5 linked regions of the Homo sapiens genome follow. The protein of the gene in region 5 purifies or fractionates together with the protein of the main gene of each other region. This does not show direct contact. Each region holds a gene or a part of one and is shown on either strand. Other genes may lie near its edges.

Region 1 (4,232 bases), on a different chromosome or scaffold from region 5:
AAGAGGGCTTGGCATTTTCCTCACCACTGAAGAAGGATCAGCCCCTGGTTTGGTCCAGTAAGAATATGTTCTTGCCCAAATGCCACTCCTTAGTTTCAGGGACATTGCTATTTTGGTTTTCTGTTCCAGCCCAAGTGTTCTTGATGGTCGAATTGTTTGCATTGACTTTTTTTCCACAAGAAGTTGGGTGATATTGCTGATTTGCCTGCCATGGCACTTCCTTGTTTTCATTTTGATTATTACTCAAAAATAGCTTCATTTTAAAATTCAACTTTTCTGACTCTCTGCTTGTGCCTTTAACACATTGACAATGATTTTCTGCTTCTCCACAAAGAAAGCACGTTGGATCCTGTCACAGACATATTTAGCAGACATGGAACCACCATAAGCCCTGCTTGGCATGTGTGTTTCATTTCAGACTACCTCATGAGAACTTTAGGTCTTAAAGCATCGGCCTCTCTCTCCAAGTCAGCCTGAACACAAGCCACAAGAGATTTCAGTTCTTTCTCGACCTTTTTGGTGTAAATGTAAACAATTCTATCACCAGGGGTTCAGGGCAGCCTAGTTTTGTTAGAGGCTGTATTGTAGGAAAGTCCAAGGTTGCAGGATCATTCTGAGTCCCTTAGACACCATTCTCAGAAGAGCTTGCTATTAGCTTAATGCTGCCCAACTACTACGTATGCTTCACGAGGGCAGGGACTTTTGTCTGTTTTCACTGCTACGGCTCCAACCTCTAAACAGTGCCCGACATAGTAGGCATTCAGTAAATATAGTACTTGTTAAATGGATGTTATTTTGGCTGCCTTTACTTTTGCTTTATTTGTCCTGCTTTACGGAGCTGGAAATTGGAGGAAAGCCTTTGAATTCATTTCCCTTCTTCCTTCTGTTCTGAAACTCTGGCCAAGGGTCCTAGCAAAGACCTTAGGGAGTGGGGAGCCCTCCTGGAAACTAATGACAAGTCAGGCGACAGGGGGCGGGAGAAGGAGAGCTGCAGGAAGTTCTTTCCCACTTACTTCTGCAGCACCCTTCACCACCCATCGTGCTCTGTATTTGGGGTTAGAGGTGTTCCGTGGAAGGGAAAGCAGGGGCCGCCTTGGCCGCGTTCCTCTCCTGGGCCACCGGGGTCTTGCCCACAGCGAGTCCCGCAGCACCCCCTGTCTGCGCAGCACCTGTTGACAGCCAGTGGGCGGCCAAGCCCGCTCGCGCGGACGCGTCCCAGGGCTGCCCCTCCCAGAGGCGCTGACCCCCGCCCGCCCCATCGGCCGCCTGCGGGAGAGCCGCTGAGCCGCCCCCGCTCGCCAGGCGCGCGCTCCGCCCGGGCTCGGCCCACGGCCCCCACCTCCTGTCTGCCGCCCGGCGGGGGGAAGGTAGAGAAGGGGAGGGGACAAGCCGGATCCTCCCGGCCGCCCCGGCCTTCCCTCTTCACCCCGTGCGGAGACGCCGCGCGTAGCCCCGAGGTTAGCGCGGAGCCCGAGGCGTGGGGGGAGGGGACGGGGAACAACCGGAGCCCCGCGGTGACCCCGAGCGGCCGAATTGCCCCAGGCTTTGAGGAGCGGGGGACGAGCCCGAACAAGGTGAACTTTGGTCGCGGAAAACTCAAGCCAGGTGCCGGAATCCGTGCTGCGGCGCTCCGAACCCGGGGCCAACTGCGCTCCGGGCTGAGGAGCGGGAGCCCCGCGGCCTCTCTCCGCCTGCGCCCGGGCCGCCGTCGGCCCGGAGCCCCCCGGCCCCGCTCCGGCGCCCCGGCCCGTGGGACCCGCCGCGGCGCCCTCGCCTTGTTTCTTCCCCCTCCCCCTTCGGGGGTGGGGGGTGGGGCGGGGGAGAGGGGCGCCCGGAGAGCCGCATCTATTGGCAGCTTTGTTATTGATCAGAAACTGCTCGCCGCCGACTTGGCTTCCAGTCTGGCTGCGGGCAACCCTTGAGTTTTCGCCTCTGTCCTGTCCCCCGAACTGACAGGTGCTCCCAGCAACTTGCTGGGGACTTCTCGCCGCTCCCCCGCGTCCCCACCCCCTCATTCCTCCCTCGCCTTCACCCCCACCCCCACCACTTCGCCACAGCTCAGGATTTGTTTAAACCTTGGGAAACTGGTTCAGGTCCAGGTTTTGCTTTGATCCTTTTCAAAAACTGGAGACACAGAAGAGGGCTCTAGGAAAAAGTTTTGGATGGGATTATGTGGAAACTACCCTGCGATTCTCTGCTGCCAGAGCAGGCTCGGCGCTTCCACCCCAGTGCAGCCTTCCCCTGGCGGTGGTGAAAGAGACTCGGGAGTCGCTGCTTCCAAAGTGCCCGCCGTGAGTGAGCTCTCACCCCAGTCAGCCAAATGAGCCTCTTCGGGCTTCTCCTGCTGACATCTGCCCTGGCCGGCCAGAGACAGGGGACTCAGGCGGAATCCAACCTGAGTAGTAAATTCCAGTTTTCCAGCAACAAGGAACAGAACGGTGAGTCTTTCCCCCATTCTCCCCCTGCTTGTTTCTCGCTGTGTGTGTTAACGTTGGCATTGTGCGTTGGTATGTGATATATACCAGACTGTGAAGGTATCTTTGGTCTCTCATTACATGCAAATGTGCGCTGCGTTCATTGGCATGGACTGTTAAAGGTTAAGTGTAGTTTGCAACTTCGGGAGCTGCCACAAAGCTCCAAGAGGGCAACGTGAGTGCCACTGCTGAGTGAGGACATTCTGGGAGCGATTGTGAACGTCATTTCAAATGCACATTGCAGGTTCGCTCATTGCTAAAGTTAGAAGTTCAAGAACTGCCTCTAAAAACGAATCCAAAATGAATGAGCCTTGGCATGTTTGACTTTACTCAGATTTGGGGAGGGCGAGGGGGGTCGGTCAGGAAATATATCAGCCGCATTAATTGAAGCACTCTAGGTCGAAGTCATCAATTAATCAATGAGTAGATAGGAAATATAGAGGTCAAGAGGCTGTGTGGTCGTTTTTAGAGGAATTAAAAAGTGTATTTCTCTTGCTCCCTAGTTTTTGTTTTTTAAACTTGCCTTTGTACTCTGAAGTCCTTACCTTTCTGGTGGTGTGTTTTTGTATGTGTTGGTGAATGACTGCTATTTTGTGTGTGCTGGAAACGACTTAATCCTGCATAGGAAATGAGAATTACTTTCAGCTTTCAAGTGTACCTGAAATGTTTAGAAAACTCTCAGATGCAAGTTCCCTTGGGCTGGGATTGCACAGAGCTGGAGAAAGGCTCCTTTCATAAAGCCAGGGCAGCTTCAGGGTGTGTAATTTGCTTAGCCTCTGAACCCATATGATTTACATCATTCAATTTCTAAACTCTTTTTCTCTTCATCTACCATTATGAAGTCATTTTTGAGAATACTTTGTAAATAGAAATTTTATACTGCACATGAAACCACAATGTTCATGTTAGGCTGTCTAAAATTGGAATATTTAACGCCCTGTTTACAAATGGTGGCTCTTACTGTAATTTGAAAAGGAATATACATGTTTTTACTGCTTTGTATATCATCTATTCAGAATGCAAGGATTCTGTCACTTGATTAACCATGCAAAATGAACACAAGTGGCATACCTACAAAATTAAGATAGGATGTGCTATAGTTTTAAGTCAGAGTGATTTTTTTTCCTTTTCATATTGGGGTGTTTCAAGACTTCAACTTTGAATTTAAACTCTATGAAGTGTTCATGTTTAAGAAAGCACAGAAAGTTTTAGGGTATAAAAGTAGATAAAATAAGGATTCTGCCGACTTTTGCAAACGTTATTTGTATTTGCTGTTGCGCAGCAAGACATAGTATCACATTTATCAGCTAATATTAGTGTGGTGCTTCTTACAACTTGCTAATGTGATGCCACATGGCACCTGCAGGCTCCTTGAGCTGCTGATCAAAGGGCAGCCTAGGGATGTATCTCTAATCACAGTAGCTGCAGAGGTCTGGGGGAAAGTGATCAAAGGAGCCACAGCACCAGCTGTACCCGTGCAGGAAACACATCAGACCAACCTTTGTTCTTTCTCATGTAAAATAAATGTCCAGTTCAAAATATTGCTTCTTACTAGCCAAGCTCCTCCATAATGACAACAATGCACAATATTCCTGGCTTCCTGGCTTCTGTTTTTTATTGTTCCTGTCCCATATCATTTCTCCTATTGCCTTGTCTTATCAAGCCTCTCTTGGCATCTGCCCGAATCTCTTTGCTGACCTGTGCTTCTCTTTGTCCTTTCCTTTTAGTTCTCTCTTGTGATCCCCATGCTATCATCAC
Region 2 (2,491 bases), on a different chromosome or scaffold from region 5:
AGCGTTTTGGGAGGCCGAGGCAGGCGGATCACGAGGTCAGGAGATCCAGACCATCCTGGCTAACACGGTGAAACCCTGTCTCTACTAAAAATACAAAAATTAGCCGGTTGTAGTGGTGCGTGCCTGTAATCCCAGCTACTGGCGAGGCTGAGGCAGGAGAATCGCTTGAACCTGGGAGGTGGAGGTTGCTGTGAGCTGAGATCGTGCCACTCCACTCCAGCCTGGTGACAAAGCGGGACTCCGTCTCAAAAAAAAAAAAAAAAAGACTCATTGCTTTTTTCCCCCCTTGATTATTTCAGTGTATTCCTAGGAAAGATAAAGGATGCATTTGATCGAAACCCGGAACTTCAGAACCTCCTACTGGACGACTTCTTTAAGTCAGCTGTTGAAAACTGCCAGGTATGTAGCCTAGGGCTGGTGCCATGGTTACTCTACCTCCCTGGGGCCATCAGTTGTGATGTTTGGTTTTTTGTTTTTTTTTTTTGGTTTTTTGTTTTTTTGAGACAGAGTCTCGCTCTGTCACCCAGGCTGGAGTACAGTGGCATGATCTTGGCTCACTGCAACCTCCGCCTCCTGGGTTCAAGCGATTCTCCTGCCCCAGCCTTCCTAAGTAGCTGGGACTACAGGTGTGCCAACATACCTGGCTAATTTTTTTTTTTTTTTTGTATTTTTAGTAGAGATGGGGTTTCACCATGTTGGCTAGACTGGTCTTGAACTCCTGACCTCGTGATCCGCCCACCTCAGCCTTCCAAAGTGCTGGGATGACAGGCGTGAGCCACCGCGCCTGGCCTAACCATCAGTTTTTCATTTACCCACATTGATATGAATGAAAATCTATCCGCGTCACCAGGGGCAGATCACTAATCTCTGGCCGTGCGTTTTGTGCTCAGGACTCCTGGCGGCGGGCAGTCAGCACTGGGGTCCAGGCTGGCATTCCCATGCCCTGTTTTACCACTGCCCTCTCCTTCTATGACGGGTACAGACATGAGATGCTTCCAGCCAGCCTCATCCAGGTAAGCCTGTGGAGCAGGGATTAACCTGGCTGGCCCCTCGGGGGCGTGCGCCATGGACTGTCCTGACCAACCTACTCTCTCGTTTCCTAGGCTCAGCGGGATTACTTCGGGGCTCACACCTATGAACTCTTGGCCAAACCAGGGCAGTTTATCCACACCAACTGGACAGGCCATGGTGGCACCGTGTCATCCTCGTCATACAATGCCTGATCATGCTGCTCCTGTCACCCTCCACGATTCCACAGACCAGGACATTCCATGTGCCTCATGGCACTGCCACCTGGCCCTTTGCCCTATTTTCTGTTCAGTTTTTTAAAAGTGTTGTAAGAGACTCCTGAGGAAGACACACAGTTTATTTGTAAAGTAGCTCTGTGAGAGCCACCATGCCCTCTGCCCTTGCCTCTTGGGACTGACCAGGAGCTGCTCATGTGCGTGAGAGTGGGAACCATCTCCTTGCGGCAGTGGCTTCCGCGTGCCCCGTGTGCTGGTGCGGTTCCCATCACGCAGACAGGAAGGGTGTTTGCGCACTCTGATCAACTGGAACCTCTGTATCATGCGGCTGAATTCCCTTTTTCCTTTACTCAATAAAAGCTACATCAGACTGATGCTCTTTCTCCAGATTCTTAGTCTCACCTCGGCCACATGGAGCCATTATCCCCATTGGCAGAAAGATTTTTCTTTAAAAAAAAAGACTAGAATAACACAAGAAACCACATTTAGGATTATGCTTCACTCAGAGGAGGCAGGCAGGGAGGACACACCAGGGGCTTTAATACACTGGGCATGTTTTCTTTCTCCAATTGGGCAATGGGTACATGGACGTTCACTGTAACGTGCTTTTTCTTTCGTCTTTTTTTTTTTTTTTTTTTTTTTTGCTCCTGGCAAGCTGTGCGTGACATTCTTTATGGCTTTTTGTATGTCAAATACTTCATACTAAACTTTCTAGAGAATTAAACTTTAATGATGGGCTCAGCTTGGTCTGATTTATTTCCTTTCCCACACCTGTCTCTACTTGCTCTAAGCCAGGCCCAGGGATTTTGAACAAGCTAAGCCGGCTCCTTAAACTAGGCTTTTCACTTTATCTTACTTACTCAGAGAAGATAAAACCTGCCAGTGATATTGTTGTGTGGCCTGGGGCCAGTGTGACTGTTCCCTGCAGCGGTTTGACTTCATGATGATTTCCCTGGAGTGTTAAAGTCCTAAGAGTTGCCTAAGAGGAGCGAGCAGCGCCTGTGCCTCGACAGCTGGTGTCTACAGTGTGACCTCTGACCTCTCGGCTAATGTCAGTGAAGGAGACAATTTTCATTAAATCACCAACTTTTAATTTATTTTTCTTTTTTTTGAGACAGAGTCTCGCTCTGTCACCCAGGCTGGAGTGCAGTGGCGTGGTCTTGGCTCATTGCAAGCTCCACCTCCCGGGTTCACACCATTCTCCCACCTCAGCCTCCAGAGTAGCTGGGACTACAGGTGCCCGCCAC
Region 3 (3,517 bases), on a different chromosome or scaffold from region 5:
TGCTGGCTTGTAGAAGGCTGTCTTCTTGCTGTATCCTTACACCTGAGAGTAAGCTCTCTGGTGTCTTGTTCTCTTCTTATAAGAGCATTGATCTCATCATGGGGGTTCCATCCTCATGACCTCATCTAAACCTAATTACCTCCCAAAGATCCCACCTCCTAATATCCTCACTGTGGGTTAGGTTTTCAACATAAGAGTTTTGGGGGCACATAAACATTCAGCTCATAATAGCCATGAAACAATAAGCTCCCCACATCACTGGCAACCGTGCTGCCCTTTCTGGACTTGCCCTTTTCAAAAGTGGTTTAGGGGATGCTCTCCATCCCTGTCCTGCTTCTGTCAAGTGGAAGGGCAAAGCTTTCCTGAGGAGAGTTTAAGGAGGCAGTTGTTCTAATTGTTTCTCAGCGCTGTGACCTTGCATGTACCTGCATGTACCTTGGAAGGGCCATGTGCTTGGGCTGGAGAAGGCCTGCATTTTCTAATCAGGATGATGAGTGGGTGCTAACCAACTAGGTTCATTGCCAGGAAGACTCCAGAGGTAAAATGCTGATGCCCTCTGTAGTGTGATGATGGAAGAGGCAGGTTAACATGGTAGAGGATCCAATCCTCAGTCCTCATGAATATCACAGCAGCGACTTATCTTACCATCCTAAGCCTGGCCAGTGATTCCCTCCCTGCCCTCCAGTCCTTTAATGGGAAAAGGAGAAACGATATTTGAATCACTGCCAGAGACAAATTCAAGGCAGACTCTTCCCTGACCCAATCACCCTTCCATGAGAATGAAGAAACTCAAGCTTCTGGACCATGCTTGCAAAACTCTGATCCTTTGAGAATTCATTTCTCAGGCTTCCGAGTTGGCAGGTTGAACATAGTAGCAAGACGATGCTCACTTCTCCCTTGAAGGATTTCTGAATGAAATGCTTTAGAAGAGTTTATTCCCATTATGGTTCCCAGTGTCCATTGGGACAGAATGAGATCATCCATGGGAGAAAGTGCCTGCTCGTGGGCCAGGCTCAGAGCTGGCAGTCCCATTTCTGAGGTAAGTCACAGAACCTGGAAGGTCCAGAGACCATCGTGTGCCCCCAGTCTGGGATGTCTGCCTCCAAGGAGTCTGAGCAAAAGCTCAACCTGCAAAGGGCTTTTGGTCAGCTGGGAATCTGGCCAAGAGACCTTTTAGCTAAGTATTTTTTTGTTAACCATTTACAATATTATCTACATTTAATTTTAGAAGAGTGCTATTCAATTGCTGTGACACAAATGGACATTGTACCAGTGAAAAACAAAATAAAATATGTTCCAGCTGATCAGCGGCCTTCCACTTTCCAACCTGAGCAGTTTTTTCCATCACAATTCATAAAAGTTTTTCAAACATAAAGAAAACTCATCAGAGTTTTATAGTAAATACCCATATTCTGAACACCTAGATGCTACAATTAACATTTCCTGTACTTGCTTTACCACATATATGTCCACATAGTCACCCTTCTATTTAATTGCCAATGCATATGTTTGATGCATTTTAAATTGACTTGTATATATCAGTATACTTTACCCTAAACACTTCTGTTTTTATACCACTGTTTAGGTGTTTTTCATAGTTCTTTTCTTTTTGAAGTAAAATGTGTATGTTCTGTAATGCACAAACCTGAATCATTTGCATATGCCTGTGTATTAGCAAGCAGTGACCCATGCATACCTGTAACCCAAGCCTGTATCAAGATACAGAATGTTACCATCACCCAGAAATTTCCCTCATACTCCTTCCCAGTCGTTTTCCACCCCCACGCAGCCAGAGGCAACCCCTGTTCTGATTGTTTTTTTACCACTGATTGATTTTCCTGTTCTGAAACCTTATCTAAATGGAACCATTCAGTATGAACTCAGTTATGTAAGGTTTCTCTCAATCAGTAATATGTTTTTGAGACTCATGCAAATGGCTGCACATAACAGTAGTTCATTCCTTTTTATTACTGTGGAGTATTCCACTGTATGAATATATCACGGTTTGTGTATTCATTCTCCTATTGATGTACACCTAGGCTTCAAATTTTTGACCATTGTGATAAAGCTAGTAAGAACAATTTTGTACAAATCTTTTTACAGACATGTGTTTTCATTTCCCTTGGGTAAATACCCAGGAGTAAAACTGCTGCATCAAGGGGTAGATGTCTGAATGTTGATTTCACAGTCTCACCAACAACAAAAGAGTTCCAGTTGCTCCACATCCTCGTGAATGTTTAATATTATCAACCTTTCTCATTTTAGCTCTTCTGGTAGGTATGAAGAAATTTAAGCTGCTATTTTAGCAAGTTTTCCAAATTAGGAAAAAAATACTTATGTACAAAGATCAAGTCTGAAGTAAATATAGGTTGAAGGAAATCTAGAAATTGGCGTGTGCAATTTTAGAAAAGTTTACCTTATCCAAACTCAGGCCATACAGCTAATAGTTTGAGAGAATGAACAATGGCTGAAGGGATATGGAACAAGCAGCCAGACACATTTTTCAGTTTTTAATTCTCCCTACAATATTATGATATTAGAAAAGAAAATGTAATGCTTAGAAAACTGCAGCCTTCGTTGGTAGAGAAATAGGAACTCTGTGTTTACCCACAGAACTGGCCTGGTGTGAACCACACTGTGTTGCCCCCACTTGCCTCCTCAGGTCAAAGCCCCTTGAAGACCAACCCTGCAAACCTAGCACAGCCTGCAACATGGAGCTATGAATCACCTAGACAATTGGGATGGACTCCTGCCACTTTCTCCCTCTTTCTAATACCATCCCTGGACCTGAGGAAAAGGAAATCCCATTTTTTGAGTATCAACACTATGCCAGAACCTATCATAGGCACTGTGTGTATATTGTCCACTAATCCTCACAACAACATCCCTATAAAGTTATTGACAGTCTGATGTTATAGATATGAAACCAAGACTCAGAGAGACATAGTAACGTGCCTAGGGTCACATAGAGATAGAAGAACCAGGATTCGACTATCAATCCTGTGCTTTTTCCACTCTACCTTGCTAAGCACCCAGAAAGCAAACTGCAAAGGGCTTAATAGTCCATTGGGTGCTGAGGCCAGTAGTAGGAGGTGGTGTATGTCTCTCAGTCAGGTTTGTCCCTGCTTTTCCTTTCTTTTCTGTTTCCTGCTTTCTAGTGTGTTTTCATTGAAGGTAGGGCTGATTCACTCCACCCTTGAGTATGATCAGTCTTTCAGAGGACACAGATGTAAATGAGCTTTAGCCTTCTTCTCCACAGCTGCCACTGTCTCCGGCTTTGAGTTTTCCCCTTGCACAAAGGGATAATTCACCTGGTACATCCATTCTCCTTCCCCTCAGTTTCTCAGAGCCTCACTGATTCCTCCCTGCTCTTTGGTCCTCTTCCTCCTCACTCCCTTCTGCCCACTGTTGGGAAGGGAGGTAACTGTGGGTTCATCACATGTTCATCACGTGTTTCTCTAGACCAAGTTACCTGTTCCTGAAAAGCACTAGCTTGCTCCTCAAATCCCACGGTTCG
Region 4 (3,517 bases), on a different chromosome or scaffold from region 5:
AATTGTACCCATGGCAGAAGGTAGGTCCCCAAACCAAACATTTATGAAAGCCAGGGGCAGTGGCTAATGCCTGTAATCCCAACATTTTGGGAGAGTGAAGTGGGAGGATCGCTTGAGGCCAGGAGTTGGAGACCAGCCTGGGCCATACGGCAAGACCCTATCTCTACAAAAAATTAAAAAATTAGTCAGGCATGGCGGCATGTGCCTGTAGTCCCAGCTACTCAGGAGGCTGAGGTAGGAGGATCACTTGAGCCAAGGAGGTTGAGGCTGCAGTGAGCTATGATCATGCCACTGCACTCCAGCCTGGGCAACAGGGCGAGATCCTCTCTCTCAAAAAACAAAACAAAACAAAAAACAAAAAGAAAGCCTAGGGAGACAGAAAATGAGAGAAGCAGTCTGTGACTGGAACAAATGTCCATGAGTCAGGTGGCAGCTGCTCAGGTGGCACCTGCCGGCAGGGAACTGGGAGCCGGAGTAGCCAGGTCTCAGATTTGCCAACAGAAGCCAGAAATCCAGATGTTTAAAACATAAAATCAGGCTGGGCAAGGTGGCTCACGCCTTTGACACCAGCAATTTGGGAGGCCAAGGTGGGTGGATCAGTTGAGGTTGGGAGTTCGATATCAGCCTGGCCAACAGAGTGAAATGCCATCTCTACTAAAAATACAAAAAAAAAAAAAAATTAGCTGGGCATGGTGGTGTGCGCCTATAATCCCAGCTACTCGAGAGGCTGAGGCAGAAGAATTGCTTGAACCTGGGAGGCGGAGGTTGCAGTGAGCTGTGAGATCCTGCCACTGCACTCCAGCCTCGGCCACAGAGTGAGACTCGGTCTCAAAAATAAATTCATAAATAAATAAAACAAACATAAAATCAGACTTTTACATGATGGCAATTAATCCGATTTTCTTTAACACTGCAGGCCAACCAGATTTGGGTTTTACGTGGATCTGGCCCGAAGGCTTCCTGTCTCAGACTTCCCGATCTAGGGTTTCTGTTGCTTTTTGTACATGCTGCTTCACTGCTGTTTCCTCTCACTGACAGCCTTTGAAAGCATATGGTCTTCAATGGTTGTATAAATTTCCATCATGTGGATAAGCCATCATTTACGTAATCATTCTTGTACTGTTGGCTTTGTGGACTGTTTCCAATTATTCCTTACTAAGTGCTGGGATTCGGATTTAAATTCGCTGGCCCATGGTGGCTACTGAACCCTGCTGTGAACCAGCAGCACCAGGGCAGCCAGAGAAAATGTGGATTTCCAAGCTCGGCTCTCAGGCTTTCTGAACCAGAATTGCCAAGGGGCGGGCTAAATATCAGACTTTGTTTTTAAAACTCTTTAGGTGATTTTTATAATCCTATTTGGAGAATGCCCACATTAGCCCACCATGTGACACTACGCTATGTTCCTGTGACGCCTCTTTGTTAAAAGCAAACCCACCTCTTCTTCGGGAGTTTAATTTTCGCAATGTAGCTCAGACAGTAGTTGATTAAATCTTGGATTAGGGCCTCACCCAGATGACTTTGAATATTCTAGATGAAGAAAATACTTGAGTTACTTGATTTAGCAGGAGCATTTTCAAAACAGCTTCATAGCAAACCCAGGGTCTTCAGCCACGATTGCTGAAAATCAGTAGGCTGATGTAGCAGTGATGGTGACATGCCCCACTGTCTGTTTAATTCCTTCTCTTATTTCTCTGGTCAAAAGCATTAGGCAAGCCAGAAAAGCTTTAGTCAAAAGCATTTTCTGCTTCATCACCCAAGATTTTTGTACTCATTATTGTTCAAATGCTTCCTGTAAGGTCCAAAGAGCTTACTGCTGCCACTTTTATTCAATTAAAATATCTCCAGATATTGACAGACAATATATTTGTTCCACTTCGGCATTCTCTTATGTCTGAATAGAATGATCTTACTACTACTAAGAGCTACACAGTACCTCTTAAAAATGCTTATAGTGCCCAGGCGTGGCAGCTCACACCTGTAATCCCAGCATTTTGGGAAGCTGAGGCAGGTGGATGACTTCAAGTCATGAGCTCGAGACCAGCCTGGCAAACATGGTGAAACCCTGCCTCTACTAAAAATACAAAAATGAGCCGGGCATGCTGGTGGATGCCTGTAATCCCACCTAGGGAGGCTGAGGCACAAGAATCATTTGAACCCAGGAGGCAGAGGTTACAGTGAGCCAGGATTGAGCCACTGCACTCCAGCCTGGGCAAGAGTGAGATTCCACCACGAAAAAAGAAAAAAGAAAAAAAAAAATGCTTATAGTGAAGCAGTCTGCTCTAGTTTTATCATCATAGAAATGTTATTAATAGATTTAAAGCCAGGCTTGGTGGCATGTGCCTGTAGTCCCTGCTACGTGGGAGGCTGAGGCAGAGGATCACCTGTGCCCAGGAGTTCTAGGCCACTGGGATTGCACCACTGCACTCCAGCCTGGTTAACACAGCAAGACCCCATCTTTTTAAAACAAGAAGAAAAGGCTGGGTGTGGTGGCTCATGCCTGTAATCCCAGCACTCTGGGAGGCTGAGGTGGGCGGATCACTTGAGGTCAGGGGTTAGAGATCAGCCTGGCCAACATGGTGAAACCCTGTCTCTACCAAAAATACAAAAATTAGCTGGGTGTGGTGGCGTGTGCCTGTAATCCCAGCTATGGGGGAGGCTGAGGCGTAAGAATTGTTTGAACCAGGGAGGCGGAGGTAGGCGGAGGTTGTAGTGAGCTGAGATCGTGCCGCTGCACTCCAGCTCCAGCCTGGGTGACAGAGCAAGACTCCGTCTCAAAAACAAAATAAGAAAAGAGAGAAATATTAGATTTAAAAAGTATAAAAATTTAGTTATCAATGTAGAATATGTAATAGTCACATGGTTCAAAATGCAAAACAAAAAATACAGAGTAAAGATTCATTTCTACCCGTTCCTCATCTTCCTAGAGGCATTCATTGTGAAATGCCCTTTTAGAAAACACTTTTAATAGTATATAGTAATTCAGATACTCAAGAACCTACCTGTCTACACAAGAGTTTCCCATCTTTGTATGCTACCAAGCCATTTTCTGGAAACACATAATCGTATTTTTCAACCACTACAATCAAAACCAAAAAAACACTTAGAATGCAAAGAATCAAAACCTGTGTTTTTACTCCTTGATTAACAATGACCACCAATAAAACCGCTAAACTCCAGCAAGGACTGTGAAAGACTATCTCATCTTACAGACTAAGAGAAGAGTATGGAAAAAAGTTCCTTGTTTTTTTAATGGCTCTTTTTGGTTACACATTTAAACGATGATGACTGGGCAGGAGATTAGGGACTTGGTGACAGGTTATCTTATGTCCCTGACTTCAGCCTGACTGTCTGTAGAGGAAGATACTCGTCCATGATGCTGATGGTTCACCAGCAGCAACCAGGGCAGTGTGAAAATGCAGATTTCCAAGCTTTGCTCTCTCGCTTCCTGAATCAGAATTGCTGAGGGACAGGCTAAATATATTTTTAAAAAAGCTCTTTGGGTCGGGTGCGGTGTGGC
Region 5 (4,189 bases):
TTTTTCTTTTTGTTTTTCTTTTTCTTCTTCTTTTTTTTTTTTTTGAGTTGGAGTTTCGCTCTGTTGCCCAGGCTGGAGTGCAGTGGTACTATCTCAGCTCACTGGAGCCTCTGCCTCCCAGGTTCAAGCGATTCTAGTGTCTCAGCCTCCCGAGTAGTTGAGATTACAGGCGCCCGCCACCACACCCAGCTAATTTCGTATTTTTAGTAGAGACAGGGTTTCACCATGTTGGCCAGGCTGGTCTCGAACTCCTGACCTCAAGTGATCCGCCCTCTTCGGCCTCCCAAAGTGCTGGGATTACAGATGTGAGCCGCCATACCTGGCTAATATATTTTTCTTAACTGACTAGAGCACAGAACACAAATCGTGTGTTTGCACTTACAAATTTCTATGATCATTGTTCCTAGTTTAAAAACTTCATTAGCAAAGGGGTTTATATTTCTCTTTTCAGTAAGGACACGAAATTATGTTTCAACAATGCCCAGTCTCACCTAAAAAGCAAGTTTTCATTCTCTGTTTATGGTAGCCCACGACAAACCAAAAAGATCATTTTGGATGGTATCATTGTTAATCCTGCTAAATGATTCAATTTCCTGCTGAAAGCAACAAACTAATACTTATTTAGTACCTACTATTTATTATTTGCATACTAGGGTTTATACACAAGGCGTCCTATGAAAGAACATTTCATTCAAAAGTCACAACATATAGTCTTCAATTATCAGCTACCTTTATTTGTAAGCCAAAATAAATGATTTAATACAGTCCTCCCAAACTGGGAGACAATGCTTTGAGAAAGGCCAAAGCTAGCCAGTAAGGCCATAAGTTCCATGAGGGCAGGATCTACCCAGCTCCTGTTTCCTGCTCAATTCCAAGCAGTTAGAACAGGGTCAGTAAACACTGCTTGCCACTTGGAAAGAGTATTCTTTTATTTGGAAATGGTATCCAGGTACTCGTGAGTAGCAAAGTCAAGAGCAGGAAAGGGGAGTGGGGGAGGTTGCAAAATCGGAGCGAGCAGCAGGACCGAGAGGGATCCGGAGGAGAGAGCCTTCAGACGGTGAACCCCAAGAGCTGGGATGAAGCATGGGTGAGCTACTGGGACTTCGCTGCCAGGGAGCAAGCTGGCAGGCAGGAAGTAGCCAAGATTTGGGGGAATCCTTCCCAGGGAACGAATACAGAGAAGGACGCATCTGAAAATTCCGCCGCAGCCACCTCCCTCCCATGGGAAAGCCCCGACCTCGGCGGGCCCAGCGCCACCCGGCTCCCCGGGGTGTGGAACACTGAGCGAGGCAGGTGCGGCGGGAGCATGCGCGCGGGGCGGGCAGGGGGCGGCTCCCGCGCCCCCACCCCGCGCGTGCACCCTCGCGCCCCTCCCGCCGGGCACCGCGGGGCAGCGGCGCCGCAGCCTGGGCTGGCGGAACCTCGCGCTCCGACTCGCCCCCCGCCTGTAGCTCGGTCGGCGTTGCGGGCAGGCGCCGCTCCGCTGGGGGTAAGAAGGACGCCGCCGCCCGCGTGGGATGGTCGCGAGCCCGCGTGGGTGCCCACGGCCGCCGCCGCGCGGGGTGGCCCCATCCCCGGGCAGGTAGAGGGGCCTGCACGACTCCCGCGGCGAGGGCCGGGCCGGTGGGGGCGGTGGCGGTTGGGGATAGCCCCGGTCCCGGCCCAGGCTCTTTCTCTTTCTCTTTCGCCGCCGGGGCGCGCGCCGGGCTCCCCGCGAGAGGCGCTGCCTCACTTGTCGCCTACTTTGGACGGGCGCGGCCGCCGCAGAGCCCGGCGCCTCGGTCAGCCGCGAGGGCAGGGTCGGGGTGCCAGGCGCGGCTACCTGGGCGCCCTGGAGCCAGCGCAGCCTGGGACCGGGGGAGCGGGACGGGACGGGACTCCTGAGGGCCCCCAGGCAGTCCTCCGGCCATCGAGCGCCCGGCGGTGGGCATTTGGCTTTTGTTTCCTCTGGGGCTAACGCCCCCGTCTGCCCGCGTGTCCCCCTCAGCCGACAAGTGTCGTGTGCCCGGACGGGCGAGCGCTGCCTCCCTCCACCCGCTTTCTGCCCTTGTCTTCCTCTGCGAGTTCTGCCCAGCCTCGGGAGCGGGAGCCCAGGGAGTGCGCGCAGGGCGGGCGGGCGCCTGGCCAGCCTGGGACGGCGGCTCTCAGGCTCCTGCCACCGCCTGGAACTGCGGGGGGCGCGCCGGCCACAGTCGCCCTCGCCTGCTCTCCGGGCCTTCTTGGGCCCGCTTGGTCCCAGGTGGACGCGAGTCGAGCTGGGCACACCTGGGCCAGCGCCGCACTTACCTGCGGGATTGGTGAGAGCGTTTTCGCGAGGTCGCAAATTCCGGGTGGGTATTGTCCCCTGCTTTTGATCTCCCTTAGTCACTGGTTAAAGTGCGAAGTGTGCTTTATCTTACATATGCCTTTAGAGGGACATTCTTAATGCGCCAATGCCCCGAGGTGGAACTAAATAAAGGGAAGGCCTGGTCATTGTTACTGTTGAGACTGCTGTACTTAACAGTCAGAGGAAGGCAGCTGGTCACCACGACCCACTCGGCCATTCCCATGCTGAAGACTCGCTCTCACTTCACACTTGTTTGGACTCCACTATGACTTGCTGGTGGCCCATCTCCTGGATCCTTCTGTTGGAGCTGTTCTAGAAGATGCTTGTGGCAGGCTCCAGTTTCAGTCCTTGGCTGAAATAAGTGTAGTGTGGCTCTTCGGTTTTCTAATCTATTCCACCTAAAAAGGTTAAGGTGACAAACAGGTGGTGGGTACAGTAGAGTTGTTTTTGGCCCTTGGTAATATTAAAAACTTGGAATGCATTCCTTATATTACTACAGAATTAGGAGAAACGGTTGAAAGAGGAGAGGTTTTTTTCTTGGAGTATCCAAAGGGATTGGATTCGACTACACTGACTTGGTGTGTAATGGTTGAGTAGGAAGGAAGATGAACATAAAACTGCTATTAATTATGCTCTTAGATGTGAGGCAACATTGAGGATGTATTGCATGTAACCCTTGACTGCAGAATCACTTAGCACTTTGCTGTACAATATTGGGGTCACAAGAAATGTTCAGCTTGGTTAACCTCTGCAGTGTGCTCTCACTCAGTTTCCAAAGAAAGGGTATTGGTGGGAAGGTGATCTGGTGAAGACAGAGGTAATGAAAGTGAAGGAACTGTGTTAACTTTCACTTTTTAAACATTTTATTTTTATTTTTTAGAGATAGGGTCTCACTCTGTCACCCAGGCTGAAGTGCAGTGGTACCATCATGGCTCACTGCAGCCTTAACCTCCTGGGCTCAAAGGATCCCGCCTCAGCCTATTGACTGGGAGGGTAGCTGTGCACCACCATGCCTGGCTAATTTTCTAATTTTTTTTTTTTTGTAGAGACGGAAACTCATTTAACTTTCACTTTAAAGAGAAGTAAGCTTGCATATTTTAAAGTTCTCATAAGAATCTTAGGTGCTCTGTAACATCTGTATAACTTCATTACAGTACCTGTGTGGTTTATATCTTAAACGACACTTCTTACTCCTTTTTGGTGGTAATAAGCCTCCTTTGCTTGGCATGGGACTTGGCACGTGGGTAAGTGCATGCTCAACAAATACTCGTAGGACCGAGTCCGTATGTGAGCAGACAACTGCTGAGCAGAGGCAGGAGGTGATAAAAGCAACAGTGAGGGAGATCAGGCTGACTCTGAAGGAAGATTTGCTGATGGAAAGCCCTCGAGTTCTTCCTATGAAGAAAAGGCCAACCTGAAAGCCACTTCCAGGAGGCTGCGTAGGAAGCACCAGCACCCAGTCTGACCAAGGAAGCAGAAGCTTCAATCCCTCCTCCCCCCATCACTCCTTCAAGTGGGTTAAGTTTTCTGTTCTCCAGAGAGCCGAAGGAGGGTCTGAAAATCGCCATTAGATAAGTGTTCATTCTTTCAGTTAATTATTATAATTAAGAAAGAATGCTGCTGCTGGTGAAGTGGGGGAGTGAGCAGGAGAGGTAGGTTTGGTGGGCTGGAGGCAGGGTGGAAAGGATAAATTCCATTTATACAACACTGGATTGAGAAAACCAAAGACTGCACGTTCTCACTTACAAGTGGGAACAAAATGATAAGCACACATGGACACATAAAGGGGAACAACATACACTGGGACCTATCGAAGGATGGGAGGAGGGAGGGGATCAGGAAGAATAACTAATGGATACTAGG

The links.
Region 1: the proteins of L3MBTL4 (region 5) and PDGFC purify together in Homo sapiens (affinity purification with mass spectrometry; one large-scale study listed by BioGRID and IntAct). This does not show direct contact.
Region 2: the proteins of L3MBTL4 (region 5) and PGD purify together in Homo sapiens (affinity purification with mass spectrometry; one large-scale study listed by BioGRID and IntAct). This does not show direct contact.
Region 3: the proteins of L3MBTL4 (region 5) and SAMD13 purify together in Homo sapiens (affinity purification with mass spectrometry, with the first as the bait; one large-scale study listed by BioGRID). This does not show direct contact.
Region 4: the proteins of L3MBTL4 (region 5) and PMM2 purify together in Homo sapiens (affinity purification with mass spectrometry; one large-scale study listed by BioGRID and IntAct). This does not show direct contact.

What each region holds. Positions count from the first base shown.
Region 1 is NC_000004.12:156,968,992-156,973,223, reverse strand, and holds the start of PDGFC (platelet-derived growth factor C precursor), read left to right. Parts: upstream 1-1,424; 5' UTR 1,425-2,320; coding exon 2,321-2,438; intron 2,439-2,625; exon of another isoform or gene 2,626-2,705; coding exon of another isoform or gene 2,706-2,718; intron 2,719-4,232. UniProt on the Homo sapiens protein: Growth factor that plays an essential role in the regulation of embryonic development, cell proliferation, cell migration, survival and chemotaxis. Potent mitogen and chemoattractant for cells of mesenchymal origin.
Region 2 is NC_000001.11:10,418,527-10,421,017, forward strand, and holds the end of PGD (6-phosphogluconate dehydrogenase, decarboxylating), read left to right. Parts: intron 1-299; coding exon 300-399; intron 400-890; coding exon 891-1,013; intron 1,014-1,103; coding exon 1,104-1,223; 3' UTR 1,224-1,985; downstream 1,986-2,491. UniProt on the Homo sapiens protein: Catalyzes the oxidative decarboxylation of 6-phosphogluconate to ribulose 5-phosphate and CO(2), with concomitant reduction of NADP to NADPH.
Region 3 is NC_000001.11:84,325,704-84,329,220, reverse strand, and holds part of SAMD13 (sterile alpha motif domain-containing protein 13), read right to left. Parts: coding exon 3,473-3,517; intron 1-3,472.
Region 4 is NC_000016.10:8,804,326-8,807,842, reverse strand, and holds part of PMM2 (phosphomannomutase 2), read right to left. Parts: intron 3,077-3,517; coding exon 3,000-3,076; intron 1,528-2,999; coding exon 1,436-1,527; intron 1-1,435. UniProt on the Homo sapiens protein: Involved in the synthesis of the GDP-mannose and dolichol-phosphate-mannose required for a number of critical mannosyl transfer reactions.
Region 5 is NC_000018.10:6,412,101-6,416,289, reverse strand, and holds the start of L3MBTL4 (lethal(3)malignant brain tumor-like protein 4), read left to right. Parts: upstream 1-1,378; 5' UTR 1,379-1,489; exon of another isoform or gene 1,490-1,582; intron 1,583-1,673; exon of another isoform or gene 1,674-2,330; intron 2,331-4,189. UniProt on the Homo sapiens protein: Putative Polycomb group (PcG) protein. PcG proteins maintain the transcriptionally repressive state of genes, probably via a modification of chromatin, rendering it heritably changed in its expressibility.